2 separate regions of the Homo sapiens genome follow, and region 2 is linked to region 1. Evidence: fine-mapped expression QTL. A gene starts in region 1. The other region holds a variant in brackets. All regions are shown on one strand. Distances are between the middles of the regions. Region 1 holds the start of COG3 (component of oligomeric golgi complex 3). Region 2 holds the start of LOC105370185 (a long non-coding RNA gene).

Region 1 (11,037 bases):
TTGGCCCTCAGCATACACAGGCTTTGCCTCCTGTGAATATTGTATTTTCAATTCGTTTCTGGTTGAAAAGAAGCCGTGTATTAGTGGAAATGCACAGTTGAAACTTATGTTGTTTGAGGGTCAACTGTGTAGTTTTATATGATTATTTTATAATCTGCCTGGCTATTTTTGATAGTCTTCTTCCCTTGTTTGGTTTGCTTCTTGATTTCTTTCTTTTTTTAAAAAAAATATTTTTAGTGATGGAGTCTTGCTGTGTTGCCGAGGCTGGTCTTGAACTCCTTGGCATCAAGCAATCCTCTTGTCTTAGCGTCCCCAGTACCTGGGATTGCAGGCATGTGTCACCATGCAGGGCTTCCTTCATTTCACATGTATATGAGAGCCATGCTCTGAAAATTATCCTTTGACAAGGGGGAGTACAGGGCCCCAGCAGTGTATGATGGGAGGCTGGACCTCACCCAGACTGCAGAGTAGATGCCCCTGAGAAAGACATTAAAGCTGAGAACTGAGGGATATCTAGCCATTTGTAATGGTACCCAAATTGCTGGACTCCAGGCTTCTCCAGGCCCAACTCTAGCTCCATGGTCTCTTCTACCACCCTTGGAGATACAGTAGCATCTGTCGTTCCCTGCACTATGTTTGAGTCTGTGTGAAGGGTCTTTGTGAAGCTGCCTACAGAATTTCTCACGTGTGCCTACTCCATTGTTCATGCGCTACTCTAGTAGGACTTGGGAGTACTCTAGGCTTTTTTCATTCTCTACCACCATACTTAGGAAGCAAGAGATATATTTTGTCTGATCTCAGAACATTCATGAACCACCCTCATCCCCACCACCCAGATGGTAGAACCCCTTCTCAAAAACACTTGCTGCAAGATACCATCCTGCTCCCCTCTGTAGACTCCCTCTTTTCTCTAAAACACGTAGTTTCTTAAGGTAGGACAAAAATAGAAGGTGTATTTTTCCAATACCTGTTTTACAACTGAGTGGCTGCTTTTAAAGCTCAAAAGCTGTCCATGTGACACGGTTGTTTGTTGGGTCTGCCGTGACAATCCTCCATTCAGGTGGTGGATACTCAAGTCTGGCTCATTAGAATAGACAAGGAGCTGTGTGTATGTGGAAAACATTCTCTCAGCATGCTTCATGTCAAACATTGGACTCGTCACCCTCTGCCAAGCTATCTTCTTCTGTGCTCCCCTCTCAGTGAAGGACACACCCATGTGTCCAAACCAGACATCCTGACTCCTTCGTGTCCATTCAGTTACACCTCAATCCCGGTGGGCTTTATCTTTTTGATATCTCCTCCTTTCACTCTCCTCTCTCCATGTCCACCAACACTCCTAATTCAGGCTGTCCAGATGACTGAAACAGCCTCTATACTCTCTGTTCCCACTTCTGGATTGGCTTCTGGTCAATGCATGTGCCACACTCTCCAGGACTTTTCTAAATGGCCAATGGGCAATGTCCTTACTGCCCGATCTCCTCAGCACAGAGGCCAAACTTCTTATCATGGCACCCAGGCTTTCACAGTCTTGTCCCTATGCACCGCTTTGACATCATTTCTTGTCATCTTTCTACCTCCAACTTCAAATTCTAATCATATTGTCAAATTTTTTACTTCCTACAGGTGTTCTGTGGTCTTGCTTCTAGGCCTTAGCACATACTGTTCCCTCTCACTTGAAAAAGTTTCTCCTTCTCTGTCTTATTGCTATTCAGATCCCAATTCATTCAAAATATATTTATTGAGTATCTACTGTATGCCAAGCACTGTTAAAGGTCTCTCCAGAAAACCTACCCTCATCATCCAAGTATGGATTAGATGCTTTTCTTCCTTGCTTCCTGTAATCATCTTATGCTTATTCACAGATACTACATTTTATATTGTATTGCACTCGCCAGTGTTTGTCTGTCTACTTTACCAGACTGTAAGCTCCTTGAATACAGGAAATGTTCTGATTTAGTATTGAATACTCAGATCAGCACACAATGTAATATGGTTTGGCTGTGTCCCCATCCAAATCTCATCTTGAATTGCAACTTCCACAATTCCCACATGTTATGGAGGAACCTGGTGGGGGGTAATTGAATCATGGGGGTGGGTCTTTCTCATGCTGTTCTTATGATAGTGATTGGGTCTCATGAGATTTGATGGTTTTAAAAAACGGGAGTTTCTCTGCACAAGCTCTCTCTTTGCCTGCTGCCATCCATGTAAGATGTGACTTGCTCCTCCTTGCCTTATGCCATGATTATGAGGCCTCCCCAGCCAGGTGGAACCATAAGTCTAATAAACCTCTTTCTTTTGTAAATTGCCCAGTCTCGGGTATGTCTTTTTTTTTTTTTTTTTTTTTTTTTTTGATTCAAGGTCTCACTCTGTCACCCAGACTGGAGTGCAGTGGCGCCATCTTGGCTCACCACAACCTCCACCTCCCAGGCTCAAGTGATTCTCCCGCCTCAGCCTCCCGAGTAGCTGGGATTACAGGTGTGTGCCACTACCACCTGGCTTATTTTTACATTTTTAGTGGAGATGGGGTTTCACCATCTTGGCCAGGCTGGTCTTGAACTCCTGACCTCAAATGATCCACCTGCCTTGGCCTCCCAAAGTGCTGGGATTACAGGCATAAGCACTGTGCCTGGCTCTCAGGTATGTCTTTATCAGCAATATGAAAATGGACTAATACAGAACCCAACACACAATTAATGTTTGATAAGAGGATGAGTGAATGAATGAATGGGTAATCTATAATGTTACTAGATCTCTAATGCTGTACAATAAGCACACACACACATGCACCCACACAACGAACATATAGGCATAATTATGATATATGCGTATCATTATAAATAACACATACTCATTAAAACATTTGAAAAACAAAATACAAGTAAAATTTAAATGTAATTAAAATGACTGTCTAGTAAGCCATCAAGCAAATTTACCATAATTCTATACTTAAATTGTTTCTAAATGTTTTTTAATATCCTGCTGTGAACATCTTTGTAGATAAAGCTTTTTTAAAAAAAATTAAGAGATTATCAATTTATGAAAAAGCCCTAGAAAAGGAAGTAAAAAAAAAGTGAGCATTTCAAGGCTAGTGATAGATATTTCCAAAAATGTTTTTACCAACATTTACACATGACTTTATTGCATGTGTTTTAATTTTATTATTAGCAAAGAGGCAGTTCATAGCTTTTTGAGGTTGAAATTTTGGAAGGTAATTATGTCTTTCTTCAAAACATGCCTTGATTCTAAATATTGATTCTGAATTCTAAGCTGTGGTACTATTTGTCTAATTCTTCTGTTATTATGAAATAAAGCCTTAGCTACTATTTAAATAAATTGTCAAGGTTTACAGTGATTTATAGTCACTGATGTGTAAATGAGAAATTGATAAAGTGAGTAAGAAAGGAAATAATTTGAAAAGGAAAACAGATCTTCAGACCCTTGATGAAGCTATAGAAACCTATAGCAAGGGAAGTGGTTCTTCTGATAATAGGCTGGAGAGTATACATAAAGAAATCCATCAATTCCACAAGAACGTGCTCTGAAAATTCACGAGGCAATTGTACACATGCAGCTGTGTATAAGAATGATTTGAACTATTCCATTTTGTAACTTTGCTGTTTTATAAGCAGTGAAGTAAAATGGAAAATGATCTGAGAAGTCTGTGTGTTCTAACGTTCTTCCTCTTTTACGCCATGTTTAGTGTTTTGGCACTAGTACAACCTTGAAGTACCATAGAATGCTGGGAAGCAGTTCTGCCAGCCTGTAATGCTCATCCTTGGAACTCATGCTTGCTAAAATGTCCTGTGACAAAAAAGTACGAATGGGTTCAAATGTACGAATGGGTTCATGTTGCTCACTTTCATTTGTGTTAGCACAGAGGGAAAAGAGAAGGTCCTGCCCAGTGTCCTGGTTCCAATGACAGGTCTGCCCTTTACTAACTGTTATCCTGAGCAGCTCACAAACCTCCCTGAAGTTTGTTTTTATCATTCATTAAATAGGGCAAAAAATAATATCCACCAACTACCTACCTGAGTGAAAGTGAGCAGCAGATGAGAGGTGCTTTGGAAATCAACACATGAGCTATTCTTGCAATGCCACATTATTAGCGGGGGTCCTTTGCAGTGTCCAGGTTTGAGTCATTGAGGAGGGCTGACCATGGCGAGGCTATGAAGCCCTCACTATAAGGAGGTCTTTGGATCCTTACCGCCGTCTCCTTCCCTATCTCTCCCCTTCCTCAATCTAGAGCACCTCTGCCCCTTGTCCCTTAGGCATTTTTCCATTTCCAGGGGCCTATTCTAAGATATTACTGGGTGAAAAACCCTAGGAAGCAAAGAAATGTGGAATTGCAGACACTTGTAGTAGGTAATAGGAAAGTTTAACCATGGTCTATGTCTTTATTAGGGCAGTAGACAGTAGGATGTGGTGCAGTCTTTCTCAAACTAGAGCTTGTGATTACATTTTTAAAATATTTGTTTTCATTTCAACTCTTTTTTTTTTTTTTGAGACAGAGTCTCGCTCTGTTGCCCAGCCTGGAGTATAGTGGCACAATCTCAGCTCACTGCAAGATCCGCCTCCCGGGTTCATGCCATTCTCCTTCCTCAGCCTCCCGAGTAGCTGGGACTACAGGTGCCTGCCACCACGCCCGGCTAATTTTTGGTATTTTTAGTAGAGACTGGGTTTTACCATGTTAGCCAGGATGGTCTCGATCTCCTGACCCCATGATCCGCCCGCCTCAGCCTTCCAAAGTGCTGGGATTACAGGCGTGAGCAACCACACCCAGCCTCATTTCAACTCTTAAAACTATATTCATGCATATTCTGGATCACCAACATGACAGTTTTATAGTTTAGGATTACCACATGATTTCAGCTTCCACCCTCCTTGTTTGTGCATATAGAATATTTTTAATAAAGCTACTAAAAACAGCAGGGTTGTTTTAATATGCAAATGATATATACAAGCCAGATAAAGGAAAAATGGTATTAGGGATTTACCCTGAGTCAAGTGTTCCCAGTAGTTCAAATGGTGGGGAACACAGCATGCTGCTGGTATAACAGAAGTGTGATGAACTCCCAAGCAGCTGTATAGCAGTAGTCAGGACTGTCTTCGTGTTGCCAGAAGCAATTTCGTTTTCCAGCAAAATAATATCCCACATCTCACTTGAGTTGTTAATGTGAATGTTATTGGTTATATACCGTTATATGTTAGTTATATTTCTGTTGGCATGTAACTTGCATGTCTATTTTGGTATAAACATCCAAAGCTTATGTCAAGTCTTATTTTTGTTCATACTTAAGCAATATAATACAATTATTTACATCAACATTGGGGATCTGCAGATTTTTTAAGGGCTTTGTACAGCAGGCAACTTGGAGAAGCTGTGGTATATAAAGGGTGTCAGACACAGTCAGGATATCTAAGTTCCAGTGGTGACGCTGATGTTAACCACCTGATTGCAGGATGTTAGGCTGCTTGCTTCACCTCTACGGGTTGTAGTTTGCTCCTCTGTAGACAGAAAGGGCTTGATTATATGATTTTAAAATTCTCTTCCAACTTCAAATTCTATTCTTTTTTTTTTTGAGACAGAGTTTAGCTCTTGTTGCCCAGGCTGGAGTGCAATGGTGCAACGTTGGCTCACAGCAACCTCCGCCTCCTGGGTTCAAGCGATTCTCCTGCCTCAGCCTCCCGAGTAGCTGGGATTACAGGCATGCACCTCCACGCGCAGCTAAGTTTTTTTGTATTTTTAGTAGAGACGGGATTTCTCCATGTTGATCAGGCTGGTCTCGAACTCCCGACCTCAGGTAATCCGCCCACCTCGGCTTCCCAGAGTGCTGGGATTACAGGTGTGAGCCACTGCGCCCGGTCTCAAATTCTGCTCTTAAAAGATCAGAGCCTTCATTTGGGAACATAGCCAGGCACTGATTTGTGCTATAAAGCCTGAATAAAGCCTTCAGACTTTACCCAGACAATGGTCAAAATTGCTACGAAGCTGTTTCCACCTGCCTTGACTCCAGGGAGGAGCAGGAAGAGGCCTCCATAACTTGTAGAAGATTGTCTGTTCTCCACCATTTATTTATTCAATCGTTTATTTATAGCAGTATGGACTCATGGGTATTTATTTTATTCTGTAAATTATGATCCAATACTATCATTATTTATTTTGTTGCTCAAATCTACAATATGATTTAAATGGTAGAGTAGAATTACATGTCTGTACCACAAATTATTATTATTATACATTTTGAGACAGTCTCACTTGATGCCCAGGCCGGAATGCAGTGGCAAGATCTCTGCTCACTGCAACGTCCACCTTCCAGGTTCAGGAGATTCTCCTGCCTCAGCCTCTCAGGCTGATTACTGGCATGTGCCACCACGCCTGGCTAATTTTTGTGCTTTTAGTAGAGACGGGGTTCAACCATGTTGGCCAGTCTGGTCTCAAACTCCTGACCTCAGGTGATACGCCCACCTCGGTCTCCCAAAGTGCTGAGATTACAGGCCTGAGCCCCCGCGCCTGGTCTGTGCCACAAATTCTTGATCCAGTTCTTCAATGTTGGACATTTAGGTTGTCTCCAGTTATTTGATACCATTAATGATGTCTGAGATACACACATCTTTGAATTTTTTATGTGTTTCCGTAAATTAGTTTTCTAGTAGGGGAATTACTGGATGTTGGAAAAGTTTATGCTTTTGGTTTTGATCCAAGAGGCATAAATTGTCAACATGCCAACATGGAAATCATACACTCCACACATTCTACCCAGACTACCCAGCTGTAAGCAGAGAGGTGTAGATCCAAGTCTCCTGCCGGCAGGGTGATTTAGCGCAGTTGTCAATAATCTGTACAACACGTAACAATAAAGTTATTGATGTTGAGGAAAAGACTTCCGGTAGGGGCATTTCTATTTCCATTGGGTCCTGTCTTCTCCACCTTCTACGTTTCAACCGGAAATAGTCGTACCCATTTAAAGCCACGTCGGTACTGGCCTCGGTCCCGCCCCCCACACTGCGGAACCGTTTCCGGGGTCAGGGCATTCCGTCCCGCCCCGCCGCCGGTGCAGTGTTGGAAGCTCCGGTTCTCCCGGAAGTGGCCCAGGTCTCTCTGTCGGGGTCCCCTCCATCTCGCTGCTGCTGAAGGCCGCGAGGGCGGCGGCGATGGCGGAGGCGGCGCTGTTGCTGCTGCCTGAGGCGGCGGCGGAGCGGGACGCTAGGGAAAAGCTGGCTCTCTGGGATCGGAGACCGGACACGACGGCGCCGCTGACCGACAGGCAGACGGACTCGGTATTGGAGCTGAAGGCGGCGGCAGAGAACTTGCCGGTGCCAGCTGAGGTGAGGTGATGGGCAGGAACCGGGCCGGGGCGATGGGGCTGGGATTCTCCTCGGGCGCCCCGGCAGGACCCCGGCCTCACTAGCCTCTGCCCAGGATATCTCTCCACTCCTCCCTGGCCATGGTGGCGGATCCGGTGGGAGGGGCCTCATCTCCCAGGCTGTCAGGCTTCGCTCTGCCTGCGACCCCGACTCTAATTCTGCCTGGGGACGGCTGTGGGGGTGTCCTGCAGCTGGTGCTCGCCGGAACCCAGTCCTCCCCCAGCAGCATGGGACGGTTGGCCCGGAGCCTTGCACCGAACGTTTTGCCCCAGACGAGGCGTCCTGTCAGCCGAGGCGTAATCCTGCTGCCCACTCTCTCCCAGAAGGAGAGGCAGTCAACCCGAGGTGCTGTGCTGCAGGACAGTCTCCAGCGCGTGCTCGTTTACCGCCTTAATGATTCACCTAGGTTGCTTTGTCCATGGGGGTCTTGGGGAGACCAAAACTTGGTCCTGAGTGAGTTTCATTTATCGCACATTGAACTATGAGCTCTCAATCAAGTGCAAGTTATGGGAGATCAGATTTATTTCACCTATTGCAAAGCAATAAAAATGAATTTTATTTGAAAGTTGGCTCAGTACATTATTAAGCAGTGCTGGTTTTCGGTGTTAGAGTCAATGTGTTTAATCCACTTACCATTAGGATATTATGCACTACTGCTTCTTGTGTGATTCAATTCAATTAGTTGTAATAGCAGGAAGTAACATGAATTGTCAGATGTTTGACAAACGTTTTCCAGTTTTGAGGGCCAGGTTTAGGAGGATTATTTTATATAAGCAGTGGTGATGGTTACTTTTGATGTTGGAAGCATTCTTTTCTCTCGCTCTGTCGCCCAGGCTGGAGTGCAGTGGCGTGACCTCGGCTCACTGCAACCTCCACCTCCCGGGTTCAAGCGATTCTCCTGTCTCAGCCTCCCGAGTAGCTGGGATCACAGGTGCCTGCCACTACACCCGGCTAATTTTTTGTATTTTTAGTAGAGATGGGGTTTCGCCCTGTTGTCCAGGCTGTTCTCGAACTCCTGACCTCAAGTGATCTGCCCGCCTCGGCCTCCGAAAATGCTGGGATTACAGTCGTGAGCCACCGTGCCTGGCCTGAAGCATTCTTTTTATACGATTTGGAATTGTGTCCAAATGCAGATTGAGTTTAGAGTCTTCAACTTTTTCTGTCCTCCAACTTTAGAGATTTGATTTAAACGTTCTCTTCACATTCACTGTTGTATGCTCAGCCATCAAATAGGCGTTCTTTCTTGGGTTTCTTTTTCCACCTCTAGGATATGGTACCGGAAGTGGATCTGAAATCAATGAAGGCGCAGGTGGAAATTTCTTTGGCTCAGCTATCAAACTCTTTTATACCCTGGATAATAAAAGTTGTTTGCTCTATAAATTTTCCAGTCTGTTTATAATTGATTTGGCTCCTACTGCAGCAGGATGCTTGGACTTAATAGCACTGAGGGTGTGATGGGGGAGATACATATTCTACAAAAAAATTTGTTTTCATTGTCATGGGTCATAAACTATTATTTCTTATTCTCATTGAGCATGAAGGAGAACGTTTGGAATGAACTAAATGGAATCTTTCATTTTCACCCCATTCTTCCATATTTATCATTAGCCACATGCAGTCTTTAACATATGTTATGTCCCTACTCTGAGTTAGGTATTGAAGATAGAAAGATAAATAGGAAAGATGAGATCCTTAGCCTCATAGAGCTGACATAATTGTGGGGATCATGAACATGGAAAAAAAGAACAAAGAAGGTATGTTCAGATGGTGGTCCATAATATAAGGAAAATCAGATAGGATGGTGTGACAGAAAAGGATGAGGTGTGCCCTTTTAGAGAAAGAGGGAAGACCTTTCCAAGGAAGTGACAGCCTGAGGTGAGAACTGATGATGGACTACCTGAAGCTAGCCTCATAAAGACTAAAGAAATAACATTGCAGCTGGAAGAAAGAACAGCATAAGGTCATGGGTAGAGGATGAGCTTAATGAGTTCAAGAATTCAGTGAGGGTCTTCTGGTACGTGCAGCTTGGTATTGGATTCCTGTGAGAATGCAATAGCTGAGGCCAGGTGCGGTGGCCCACGCCTGTAATTTCAGCACTTTGGGAGGCTAAGGCGGGAGAATCACTTGAGGTCAGGAGTTCAAGACCAGCCTGGCCAACATGGCGAAACACCATCTCTACTAAAAATATAAAAATTAGCTGGGTGTGGTGGTGCATGCCTGTAATCCCAGGTACTTGGGAGGCTGAGGCATGAGAATCACTTGAACCCAGAAGGCAGAGATTGCCCTGAGCCGAGATTGCACCACTGCGCTCCAGCCTGGGTGGGTGACAGGCAAGATTCTGTCTCAAAAAGAATGCAGTAGCCGAGCTGGTTATGCACACATCCTGGAATCTTTGAGAAGGCAGTTCTCATTGCTCTTCAGCTTTACAGCCCTCATTTTCCTTTTCTGAAGTGTTTATATGTCTGTTGGGAAGACTTTGGAATTAATTTTTTTAGCCCTATACTACTCTTTTAACATTGGCAGCAAAAGAGAGTGCCACAATTTTCATTTTGTCCAATCAGTATAACTCAAGGATTTTCTGTAGTGTTTCACAATTTTCACGAGATAAATTACTTCCTGAACAACTGGAACTGAGCAGGCTAGTAGAATAGCAAGAGGCCAACTAACTCTTAAGTACATATCATAAAGATGTTAACTTCTTTAGAAAATAGCTTTCTCTTTTATGAAAGAGAACTAGTCTTATCTTAAAAAGGAATTATGCCTTTTTTGGCATTAGAGAAAATAATTTACAATAGAATATTAGGTAGACTTTTGTAGCCAGGGCAAACTTAGTAGTGAGGGGCCTATTTCTTTCTGTTGAATTTAGTAATTCTTGATAAAGTGCTAAAATAATTTACCCCGACATTTACCTATAATTTACTGTTACAGCTGTTGTTTTCTTGTAGGCTGTGTGACCTTAGATGTGATGTTTATCTTTTCTAAGCCTTAATTTTCTTCTTTATAAAATGGGGACTTAACTCATGATGAGTACTTATCTCATAGGGAATTGTGAGAATTATGTGAAATCACGTATGCAAGGTGCACGTGGCAAGTTACTTGCTATTATTCTTGTGCTTTCTTTCAAATTATTAACATCTTAAAAGAATAGATTAGAATCCTGTGATGCTGAGCTGGTATAGGTGTCATTCAGACCAAAGGTAAGAAAAGGAGAGGTTAAGTGCCTTGAGGAAGGTTCTGAGACTCCACCTATACCTCTTCAGTAATTTGCTCCAAGCAGAGAACAAAACATCAGGTTTCATTTAGGGAATTAATTGATCAGATTGATTATAAAAGTGGTTTTCTCCAACCCAGAACTCTGCAAGAAGTAAAGCTTGGGAGAGAAAGGTATGTTACTTGTTATTTCAGGGACCTGCTCAGCTGGTCAGGCAAAGCTTGAGAATTTATTGTACTTACTATTTAATGTTAGTGTCTCCATTTGCATAAACTATACAGTAGCTCTGCAGCACTGGCCCATTAGCAATCTAGAACTGTGTTCTCTCTCTAGTGGTGTCTGTCTGCTCCATCTGGAAGCCAGGACAGTGCTGGTAAGCAGCAGGCATTCAGTCACCTCCTCCTGAGAAGTGAATGAGAGGTCAGAACAGGAAAGTGTGTGATACCACCACACCCCTTTTT
Region 2 (11,037 bases), 740 kb before region 1:
CTAACATGGTGAAACCCCATCTCTACTAAAAACACAAAATTAACCAGATGTAGTGGCGCATGCCTGTAGTCCCAGCTACTAGGGAGGCTGAGGCAGAAGAATTGCTTGAACCCGGGAGGCAGAGGTTGCAGTGAGCTGAGATCACGCCATTGCGCTCCAGCCTGGGCAACAAGAGCAAAACTCAGTCCCCAAAAAATTTTTTTTTATTAAAAAATAAAATGCTTGGGATCAAAAGTGTTTTAGATTTTGGAGTTTTTCGAATTTTGGAATATTTACTTATATACTCACCAATTAAGTATCCCTAATTTAAAAATCTGAAATGTGAAATGCTCCAGTGAGCCTTTCCTTTGAATATCATGTCAGTCCTAAAAAGTTTTGGATTTTGAGCTGGACACGGTGATGCATCCAGCTACTTTGGAGGCAGAGGTGGGAGGATTGCTTGAGGCCAGGAGTTCCAGATCAGCCTGGGCAACATAGCAAGACTCCATCTAAAAAAAAAGGTTTTGGATTTTCCAGCATTTCAGATTCTGGATTTGGGACTAGGGATATTCAAACTGTAGTAGTCTTTATATTGACTTGATTTTTATATTTTAAACTCATCCTAATCAATAACATTAATAAAATTATGGGTGGAATATAGTTAGATTTTCTTATATAGTTATATTTTCTAAAATACATTAATATATATTAAAAAGAAAAAAATATTGATGTACCACCAGTGGCATGCACTCTACTTAGGGAAACACTGCCTTGGCCCACTGCAGACATTAAGGTCCAGGGAGGTTAAATGGTCTTGCTTGAGGTCTGGCAAATGGCAGAACTGGGACATTCCTTGGATCTCCTGAATTCCCTACTTGTTTTTACCACAAAGTCAGCCAGCTTTGCGCAAAGCTGGCTTTTCTTACTGCAAAGCAGCCAGTTTTTACCGCAAGCCAGGCCTGGGCCTCTATGTAGAGGTACTCATTAACTATATGCCTTACTTCTCTAAGCTATTCACTACCACTTGGCATGTTATACCACCATGAAATTATTTACCCCCTAAGTTACAGAGCTTGTTTGAAGCTAACAATTCCAAATATGCCCCACTTTTAGCCCTGAATAGAGAGATGCATTGATGGAAAAATAAATGAGGTCAGTATTCTTTTCTACTCATCTGACAAGAATGGCACTTTATTAAGGAAGCAAATTTTCCAATGTGGTTTCCAAAAATCTTACTCATTCCAAAATGAATAAGGAGGTGCTCCATTCTTTTCTTTGCTATATCAACATATAGGACCTCCACGTCACAGACCTTAGATATTTCCCCAAATAGAAAATAGTACAGTTTGTAAGTGGCAGAATCAGTCTGTAAACACAATTTGTTCCAAACCCATCATTTAAATAGAAATGGCCCAAAGCCAGCATTGCTTCAAGCATAGGAATTCTCATATCATTTGTCCTCACCAACAAATTCCACAGTACCAAATTTAGCTTGGTGAGACAAGCATGATGCTGAAAATACATCCTCTGCTGTTATTTGGCAACATTTAATAAAAGAAGAGCAGATGTTGAACTATAGGGACAGGTTAAATTTTGAAATTACAGTGCCATTATAACTAATTAAAGCCAGAATAAAAGACACAAATTTGAGAAAGATAAAATTATTGAAATAAGACTTTGGAGTTTGTTTTAACAGGATTTGATCTGTGTAACATATTTTGTAATGTCTATTTGTATTTGTACATAATTGCACTTTAATTTATAACAGTTTAACTTCAAATATTTTTCTACTTTAAGTACAGTGCAGTATTTAAATAGAAGTATACTTCTATTTCTTCCTTCTTGTCTTTATGCTATTGTGATACATTTTGCTTCAATATATGTTATGAATCCTGCAATATACTGTGATTATTTTCACTTTAATTAGTTGATGATGTCTTAAAGAAGTCATTTATATATTTATCATTTCTGGCACTCTTCAGTCATTTGTATAGATCCTTTTCTTGTGCTGTATCCTGCCTGAAAACTTCTGTTTTCTTTCTTGTTGTGCAGATGGCTAGTGATGAGTTCTTTCAGCTTTTGTTTGAAAAGTTTTAATTTAACTTTTATTATTATTATTATTATTATTATTATTATTATTTTCAGATGGACTCTTGCTCTGTGGCCCAGGCTAGAGTGCGGTGGCATGATCTCGGTTCACTGCAATCTCTGCCTCCCAGGTTCAAGGGATTCTCCTGCCTCAGCATCCCAAGTAACTGGGATTACAGGCACCCACCACTGCGTCCAGCTAATTTTTGTATTTTTAGTAGAGACAGGGTTTCACCATCTTGGCCAGGTTTGTCTTGAACTTCTGACCTTATGATTCACTCACCTCAACCTCCCAAAGTGCTGGGATTACAGGCATGAGCCACTGCGCCTAGCAGTTCACTTTTATTTTTGAAACATTTTTTGCTGGGTATAAAATCCTAGATTTACAGCTTCTGTTTCATTACTTTAAAGATATTGTCTCATTGTCTTCTGGGTTATGTAGTTGCTGTCAAGAAATCTGCTGCCATTGGTTTTGGCTGTTGTTCTTATGTAAATAAGATGTCCCCTTTTCACTGGCTGTTTTAAAAAATTTTTTTGACACTGGTTTTCAACAATTGGGCTATGGTGTGCCTTGGCATGATTTTCTTAATGTTTATTCTGCTTGGCATTTGTTGAGCCCCTTGAATCTTCAATTTATAGTTTTCTTCAAAATTGGAACACTTTTATTTATTATTTTTTCAAATATTTTATCTCCCCCCTCACATCATTTTCTTGGCACTTTAATTATACACATGTGTTCATCTAGGTTATATATGTAAAGTCCACAAGTCACTAATGCTCTATTCATTTTTTTTAGTCTTTTTTCTGTGCTTCATTATTTCTTCAACTTCACTTACCTTTTCTTCTGCAATATCTGATTAACTATTAATCCCATGCAGTATTTTTCAATTAAGATACTGCATTTTTCATCTTTATGTGTTTTATCTGAGTCTTTTAAAAGTATCATCAATTTGGCTGGGCATGGTGGCTCACACCTGTAATCCCAGCACTTTGGGAGGCCAAGGCAGGCGGATCACCTGAGGTCGGGAGTTCAAGACCAGCCTGACAAACAGGGAGAAACCCTGTCTCTACTAAAAATACAAAATTAGCTGGGCCTGGGGTGGCACATGCCTGTAATCCCAGCTACTAGGGAGGCTGAGGCAGAAGAATCGCTTGAACCTGGGAGGCGGAGGTTGCGGTGAGCCAAGATCATGCCATTGCACTCCAGCCTGGGCAACAAGAGCGAAACTCCGTCTCAAAAAAAAAAAGTATCATTAATTTATCTTTTCACCATGTTCATGTTTTTATTTACTTTCTTATAGATAGGAGTGTATTTAAAATAGATATTTTCATGTTCTTGTCTGCTAATTCATTATTTCCATAATTTCTGGGACTGTTTCTATTGATTACTTTTTCTTTTGGTTATAAGCAATGTTTTCCTGTTTTTTTGTATGCCTGGTAATTTTTGACAGGATACCTGGCATTGTGATTCTACATTGTTGGTTGCTGGATTTTGTTATTTTCTTTTAAATAGTGTTGAGCTTTATGCTGGTACAAAATTAAGTTACTTGGAATCTATTGGATCCTTTCCTTTTCAAGCATTTTAATGGTGAGTTCAGAGTGGCTTTTAGTCTAGGGCTTATTTAGTCCCACTAGTAAGGTGGGACTACATAAGAAGAGTCCCCCTCTGAGGACTCTAGGAGGTCTTTCTACTCTGACTGGTGGGAACACAAACTATTCCTAGCCCTGTGTAAGCCCCAGGAATTGTTCAGCTTGCTGCTTTTGGGTGATGGTTTCCCCTTAGATAGTTTCCTCTTGTGTATACATGAATCAGCCATCAGCCAAAGCTTCAAAGTGGCTCCTTTATAGATCTCTGGAGTGCTCTCTTTTTCTCCCTGTCTTCCCCTGCATCTCCCTCCTTTCTAGTGCATAGACCCATACGTTCTAGTGACTTTGACCTCCCTTGGCCTGGATCTCTTGCTCCTCATCTCAATGAGACTGCTGTGCTATTTCTTCCTCCCTATACTGCAATCTGGAAATTGCCTCCAGGTAGCAAGCTGGGGCAATCATAGGGTTCACCTCTTTATTTTCCCTTCCTCTTGGATCATATTTCTGTGCTGCCTGTTGTCTAACATCTGAAAACTACTGTTTCATATATTTTGTCTAGTTTTTTAGTATTTTAAGACAGGAGGGTAAATCCATCCCCCATTACTCTATCATGGCCAGAAGCAGAAGTCTTCCGATCCCCTATAATGAATGTTTGTGGCTGGAAAAATGTTTGTTTATTTTCTATAACTTTCCCTAGTGATTCTACAGTTCCTTACCAAGTTTGATGGTAAAATAAAAATTAATCATGCTAGAGGCCGAGCATGGTGGCTCACACCTGTAATCCCAGCACTTTGGAAGTCCAAGGTGGGCAGATCACCTGAGGTCGGGAGTTCAAGACCAGCCTGGCCAACATGGAGAAACCCATCTCTACTAAAAATACAAAACTAGCCAGGTGTGGTGGTACATGCCTGTATTCCCAGCTAATTGGGAGGCTGAGGCAGGAGAATGGCTTGAACCCAAGGGTGGAGGTTGAGGTGAGCTGAGATTGCACCATTGCACTCCAGCCTGGGCAACAAGAGCAAGACTCCATCTCAAAAAAAAAAAAAAAATTAATCATGCTGGAACTTCACTTTGGTCACATTAGCAGCAGGCTTCTTTTCCTATTTTGTTTCCTGGCACCTGCTGGATCTCTAAAGCAAGAGAGAGTCAAACCCTTGGTTTCCCAAGTTTGGGTCTACCTGATTCATTCACATATACTTTATGTGATGATCAGTGTTTTCATGTTTAGATTCCCATAACTCGTGATTATCTGATACTGACTATAGTTGTTGAAAATTATATATAAAAAAGAGCCCTAATAAAAGTCGTAAGAAGGCAAGCATTCTCTTGAGTGCTCACCTTTTTTATTTCTACTTCACATACTGGAGCCCTCTCCTTGACTTCAGGCCTTCAGTAACATTCAGGCAGTTCCCCGACTCTCCAAAATCCCTTCTGGAAGCTTCGCACATAGACACATCCTATTTCAAAATTATGCTCTTTTTCTTTTTACAAGATAGTCAAACTCCAATGACCTGAAAGGCTTAACCCGTTCACCATAAGAAGCTTGAAGGTAGGAACTAAATCTTCTTTTTGGTGTTTCATCAGATTCTAGAATGTCATCTGACACTGGACTTCATAATTGTTCACTTTCTGAGTATACCTTGAGTGATTGAGGGCAGGAAATTTGGAGCTACTGTCACAGTGCTTTCTACCACCTCCTCTGGCTTTTAGGGTGTCCAAGATAAAATAAGAAGGGACCCTGTTTTCTCATAGTTGCATTTTTCTAGTGGAGGCTCTACCTCTTATCTGGTCTTTAAAAGAGAAGAAAAGACTAACCTCTTGGGAAGGTTGATTTTGGCTTCTGCCCAATAACCCAAATCCATGAACACTCTCCCACCTTCTGAAGTTGTATCTCTAATTTTTTCATAGACATTTTAATAGGGTTTTCACTTCCCTACCATTAGTTTATATTTAATATCAAGTTAATGAACTACATTTGTAGGATCTTTATCCCAAGTCTGTATTCCTCAATTTTTTACAGACTTTATGCTTTCGGGTAATCATTTCAAGTTTCATCATTTTTCAATATATCCCACAAGCAATTTGTGACTTGGCTCTATCAGCTTGAAGTAATTAGAAATTCACTTGCACTATTGAGGACTTGCATCTGTAAAAGGAAGAAATATTTTCTGGAAAAATGGATTTGCAAAATGAAGGCACTTTGGCTTGGTGAGTCTGGACCTCACACAGGTTGAGACAGTCACAACTTGAGACCGTGAGATAGGTGAAAGGCCCTTGAACCAGAACACTAGAATCAAATGAGTCTTTTCTCTCATGTTGCCCTGTGGTAGACAGAATGTGGGGTTGATGACCAGGCCAAGCTAAGGAAAACTCAGGTGGATGGGCATGAGCAGGCTTGTTTTCAGATTTGAATAGCATTTCAATACCTTCAAAACCATTTTCACTTGTTCATCACCCTGCTTTTCACCACCAATGAAATGTGGCTATTCCATTCACCTCTGGACACTTTAGGTTCCTCTTTGTTTTCCTCCTTGTACCCCTCTCTCTCTTTTTTTTTTTTTTTTTTTTTTGAGACGGAGTCTTGCTCTGTCGCCCAGGCTGGCGTGCAGTGGCGCGATCTCGGCTGACTGTAAGCTCCGCCTCCCGGGTTCACGCCATTCTCCTGCCTCAACCTCCCGAGTAGCTGGGACTACAGGCACCCGCCACCGTGCCCGGCTAATTTTTTGTATTTTTAGTGAGTCGGGGTTTCACCGTGTTAGCCAGGATGGTCTCAATCTCCTGACCTCGTGATCCGCCCGCCTCGGCCTCCCAAAGTGCTGGGATTACAGGCGTGAGCCACCGGGCCCGGCTTTTTTTTTTTTTTTTTTTAAAGACAGAGTCTCCCTCTGTCGCCCAGGCTGGAGTGCAGTGGCAGGATCTCGGCTCACTGCAACTTCTGCCTCCCAGGTTCAAGCGATTTTCCTGCCTCAGCCTCCCGAGCAGCTGGGATTACAGGTGCACACCATTGCAAGCTAATTTTTGTATTTTTAGTAGAGATGAGGTTTTCCTGTGTTGGCCAAGCTGGTCCTGAACTTCTGAACTCAAGTGATCCTCCCACCTCGACCTCCCGCAGTGTTGGGATTACAGGGTGAGCCACCGCGCCCAGCCAAAAGCTAAGTTTACATATTGTACAAGTCATAGTAAGAATAGCCAGGTGTGGTGGCTCACGCCTGTAATCCCAGCACTTTGGGAGGCCGAGGCGAGTAGATCACAAGGTCAGGAGTTCGAGACCAGCCTGGCCAACATGG[T/C]GAAACCCCATTTCTACTAAAATACAAAAAAATTAGCTGGGTGTGGTGGCACATGCCTGTAATTACAGCTACTCGAGAGGCTGAGGCAGGAGAATCCCTGGAACCTGGGAGGTGGAGGTTACAGTGAGCTGAGATTGTGCCATCGCACTCCAGCCTGGGCGACAGGGTGAGACTCCGTTTCAAAGAAAAAAAAAAAGAATAAACATGGACATCTCTACCAGATTGTCAGTAGATGGTTTTTGTCTGCTCACAATCTCCTTAGGGAATAACAAACACTTCTCCCTTTCCTACACCATATGGTTCAGGCATGATTCAACACGTGCTTTGACTTAAAAACTGGACACACAGTTTAGGTTGGGCAATCAGAGAGATTGTTTCAAGGATGGGCAGAGCTCTCCCCAGGATTTTTCTGGAATGATTAAAAAACAGCCTCTATGTTTTGTTTGCCAGCTGTAAAGATAATGTAACACTGGAATCTTGGTGGCCATATTTGCTACTGAGTTAGAAGGGAAAGAATGAAGGCAACACAGGAAATGTGGAAACACAATGAAACCGCCATTGCAAAATTATAACTGAGAAAATTATTACAGTGAAAGAGATCTGACCTAACCAACCCCATCTTGCTTCTGACCTCCAAGCTGTCCTCCTTCATTCCTGGGCACAGGCCGATCTAACTTTGGGAGGAACTTAGTTTATAGTTTAACTTTGAAACAGAAATGATAACAGCCCTTTCCTGAAACGAATCCCCCTCCTGTATGGGGACAAGACTACCCTTGTAGGACTAACAAATTAGCTACAAGATTAGAAATTACGGTTTGGGAGTCATGGAGCTGGAGGCTACAAAATTCTGACCCTCCCCAAATTGCTCCTGGGGATAACGTCACCATTGTAAAGCCCTGCACTCGCTGCACCAGCTGGCACCACCCAGATTGATAAACTGGCTCATCTAGTCTTGTGGCCCCCACCCGGGAACTGACTCAGCACAAGAAGGCAGCTTTTACTCCCTATGGTTTCATCTCTGACCTGCCCAATCAGCACTCCCAACTCACTGGCCCCCTACCCACCAAATTACCCTTAAAAACTCTGATCCCCTAATGCTCGGGGAGACTGATTTGAGTAATAATAAAACTTCCATCTCCTGTACAGCCAGCTCTGCATGAATTAAAAACTTTCTCTGTTGCAGTTCTGTCTTGATAAATCAGTTGTCTAGGCAGTGGGCAAGGAGGACCCATTGGATGGTTACAAATTTAAGGTAAACTATTATGTAGGAAAATACTGTGTTTTTGATATGTTCTCACACCACAACAACCATCTGAAACCGCCTTTGCAAAATTATGACTGAGACAGTGAAAGAGATCTAACTTAACTGACTCCATCTTTCTGCTAACCTCCAAGCTGTCCTTGTTCATTCCTGGGCATAGGCTGAACTAACTTTGGGAGAATCTTAGTTTACAGTTTAAACAAAGATGGTAACAGCCCTTTCCCAAAGCAGACCTCCTTCTTGCCTGGGGACTAGATTGCCTTTGTAGGACTAACATTAGCCATAAGATTAGAAATTATGGCTTAGGAGTCATGCAGCTGGAGGCCACAAGATTCTGACCCTCCCTAAACTCCTCCTAAGATCAGTGCTTGAGGTATTTTGCAGACCCTGCACTTGATGGATCAGCTGGCCCCACCCAGATCAATAAACTGGCTCATCTGATCTTTTGGCTCCCACTCAGGAACTGACTCAGCGCAAGAAGACAGCTTCGACTCCCTATGATTTTATCTCTGACCAATCGGCACTCCTGGCTCACTGGCTTCCCCCACCCACCAAGTTATCCTTAAAAATTCTGCTCCCCCAGTGCTCAGGGACACTGATTTAAGTAATAATAAAACCCCGGTCTCCCGCACAGCCGGCTTTGCGTGAATTTCTCTTTCTCTATTGCAACTCCCCTATACTGATCTGGGCAGTGGGATAGGTGAACCCCTTGGGCGATTACACATCAACACAGAAAAGGATTTCTGTGACTAAATATTGTTTTTTTTTGTCTCCACACACCAAGTAGCAGACACCAGCTAGGTGTTCTCCAACTGAATTCCAACACTATCGACCTGGAGATAATATCACATCCCACAAATTGGGGGCCTAGTCCCCAAGACTGCTCCCTATACCCCCAGGCACCAGTTGCAAGTCTGGGCCTCAGGAACTCCTGACAACTAGTTTCAAATTGGGGTTCCCACGACTCCCTCTTTGCCTTCTAATAATTTGCTGGACTGGCTCACAGAACTCAGGGAAACACTTTTGGTTACTAGTTTCTTTTTTTTTTTGAGACGGAGTTTCGCTCTTGTTGCCCAGGCTGGAGTGCAATGGCATGATCTCGGCTCACCTCAGCCTCCGCCTCAGCCTCCCGAGTAGTTGGGATTACAGGCATGTGCCACCATGCCCAGCTAATTTTGTATTTTTAGTAGAGACAGAGTTTCTCCATGTTTGTCAAGCTGGTCTCAAACTCCCAACCTCAGGTGATTCACCTGCCTCGGCCTCCCAAAGTGCTAGGATTACAGGTGTGAGCCACCATGCCCGGCTGGTTACTGGTTTCTTATAAAGGATATTACAAAGGATACAGATAGGGTGAGGTATGCGGAAAGGGGCATGGAGATTCCATGCCCTTCCTGGGTGCACCACCCTCCAGGAACCTCACATGTTCAGCTATCCAGAAGCTCCCTGAACCCAGTCCTCTTGTTTGGTTGGTGTTTTGTTGTTTTGAGACAGGGTCTTGCTCTGTGGTCACCCAGGCTAGAGTGCAGAGGTGCAATCACGGCTTGCTGCAGGCTTATCTCCTGGATTCAAGAGATCCTCCCTCCTCACTCTCCAAAAGTGCTGGGATTATAGGCATGAACCACTGTGCCCAGCCCGTCTTGAGTTTTTGTGGAAGCTGAGTGATGTCAACATTCTTCCTGCAATGTTTTGTCTGGGAAGGGTCCTAAGCCCCACCATCAGAAAGGTGGGGAAAGATTAGTCTTGCTTTGGGGTAGGTGAAATGAGGACAGGAGAAAGTTGAGATTTCCTGGGGCCTGCCCCTGAGGCCTAATACATTCAAGATTATAACAAAAGACTGTAAAGGGGACTATGGAAGCAATGAACCAGGAACTGTGGAGGAAAACAAATATATATCATAACACCACAACTATTATAATAACATGATTTGGGCTCCTGGATCCAGCTCCCAAAATTCATCCTTAGATTTCCCAAGAGCCTATAATTACCCGTTTTTGCTTAAATACGTTTGAATTGGGTTTCCGTTGTCAGTGGATTTAGGTAGACCTTTAACATGAAACACCAAGCTGTGGGCAAGGTATGAGGAATCTGGTGAGGCGCATGTCCGGACTATCGGAGATTTACAGTGGAGCACCATCTCCCCAAACATTGCTACTACCTCCGTCTGAGAAGAGGCAGGCAGTGAGAACAAGCCGAGCTGAGCCTCTGGCGGTGAGGACCTGGCTAAATCCAAGCCAGGAGCACTGTGGGCCAAGGCTGGACAGCCCTCACCTATGGACTCTTGTCACTTCCAGGTACTGCCAAATGCACCTCAGTGGGGGTGAGGAAGTGGGCGGAGGCACTTCATGCTGACCCGAAAACAGACCCAAATCGCCCTTTCTGTGCCTGGGGGGCATGAACCTCCACGGCCCCAAACTGCAGTTGCAGAGGCAGAGTGGCAGGTCGACATTTCTGTTCTGTTCCTCAAATCCTTGGGGACTCGAGGTGTCCCCAAGGTGTTTCTGTTCCTCAAGTTCTTGGGGAACTTTCACTGTGTTCTTCCAGCTTATCGATTCTGCCTTGAGCAGCAGCAGGCAGGTGTGCAGGGGGTGGTTGGGAGGGGAGCCCCCCGCCAGCATCGAAGTGCTGATAGATTAGTCAGGAAAAAGAGTTGCTGCCTTCATCTCCCCTTGTGGGCTTTGGCCTCTTTCTCCCAATTGTCCTTTGGCAGAGGTGCAGAACGCTGATGAGATACCCCTTGGACTCCTTCCAGAAGAGTCTCCCATTGAGGCAATTAGGTGAGAGCTGACGACAATTTAGCGAGCACGCAGCGATGCCAAGGGTCTCCCGGATCAAGAG

Evidence for each region.
Region 2: its variant is fine-mapped to the expression of COG3 in nasal epithelium (TOPMed, PIP 0.95).

What each region holds. Positions count from the first base shown.
Region 1 is chr13:45,457,885-45,468,921 of GRCh38, forward strand. COG3 (component of oligomeric golgi complex 3) reads left to right here and starts at 7,055. Exons shown (of 23, transcript NM_031431.4): 1 at 7,055-7,326. The coding sequence starts at 7,153.
Region 2 is chr13:44,719,111-44,730,147 of GRCh38, forward strand. LOC105370185 (a long non-coding RNA gene) reads right to left here and starts at 5,067. Exons shown (of 3, transcript XR_941929.4): 1 at 4,993-5,067. The variant T/C (reference allele first, on the strand shown) is at 6,942.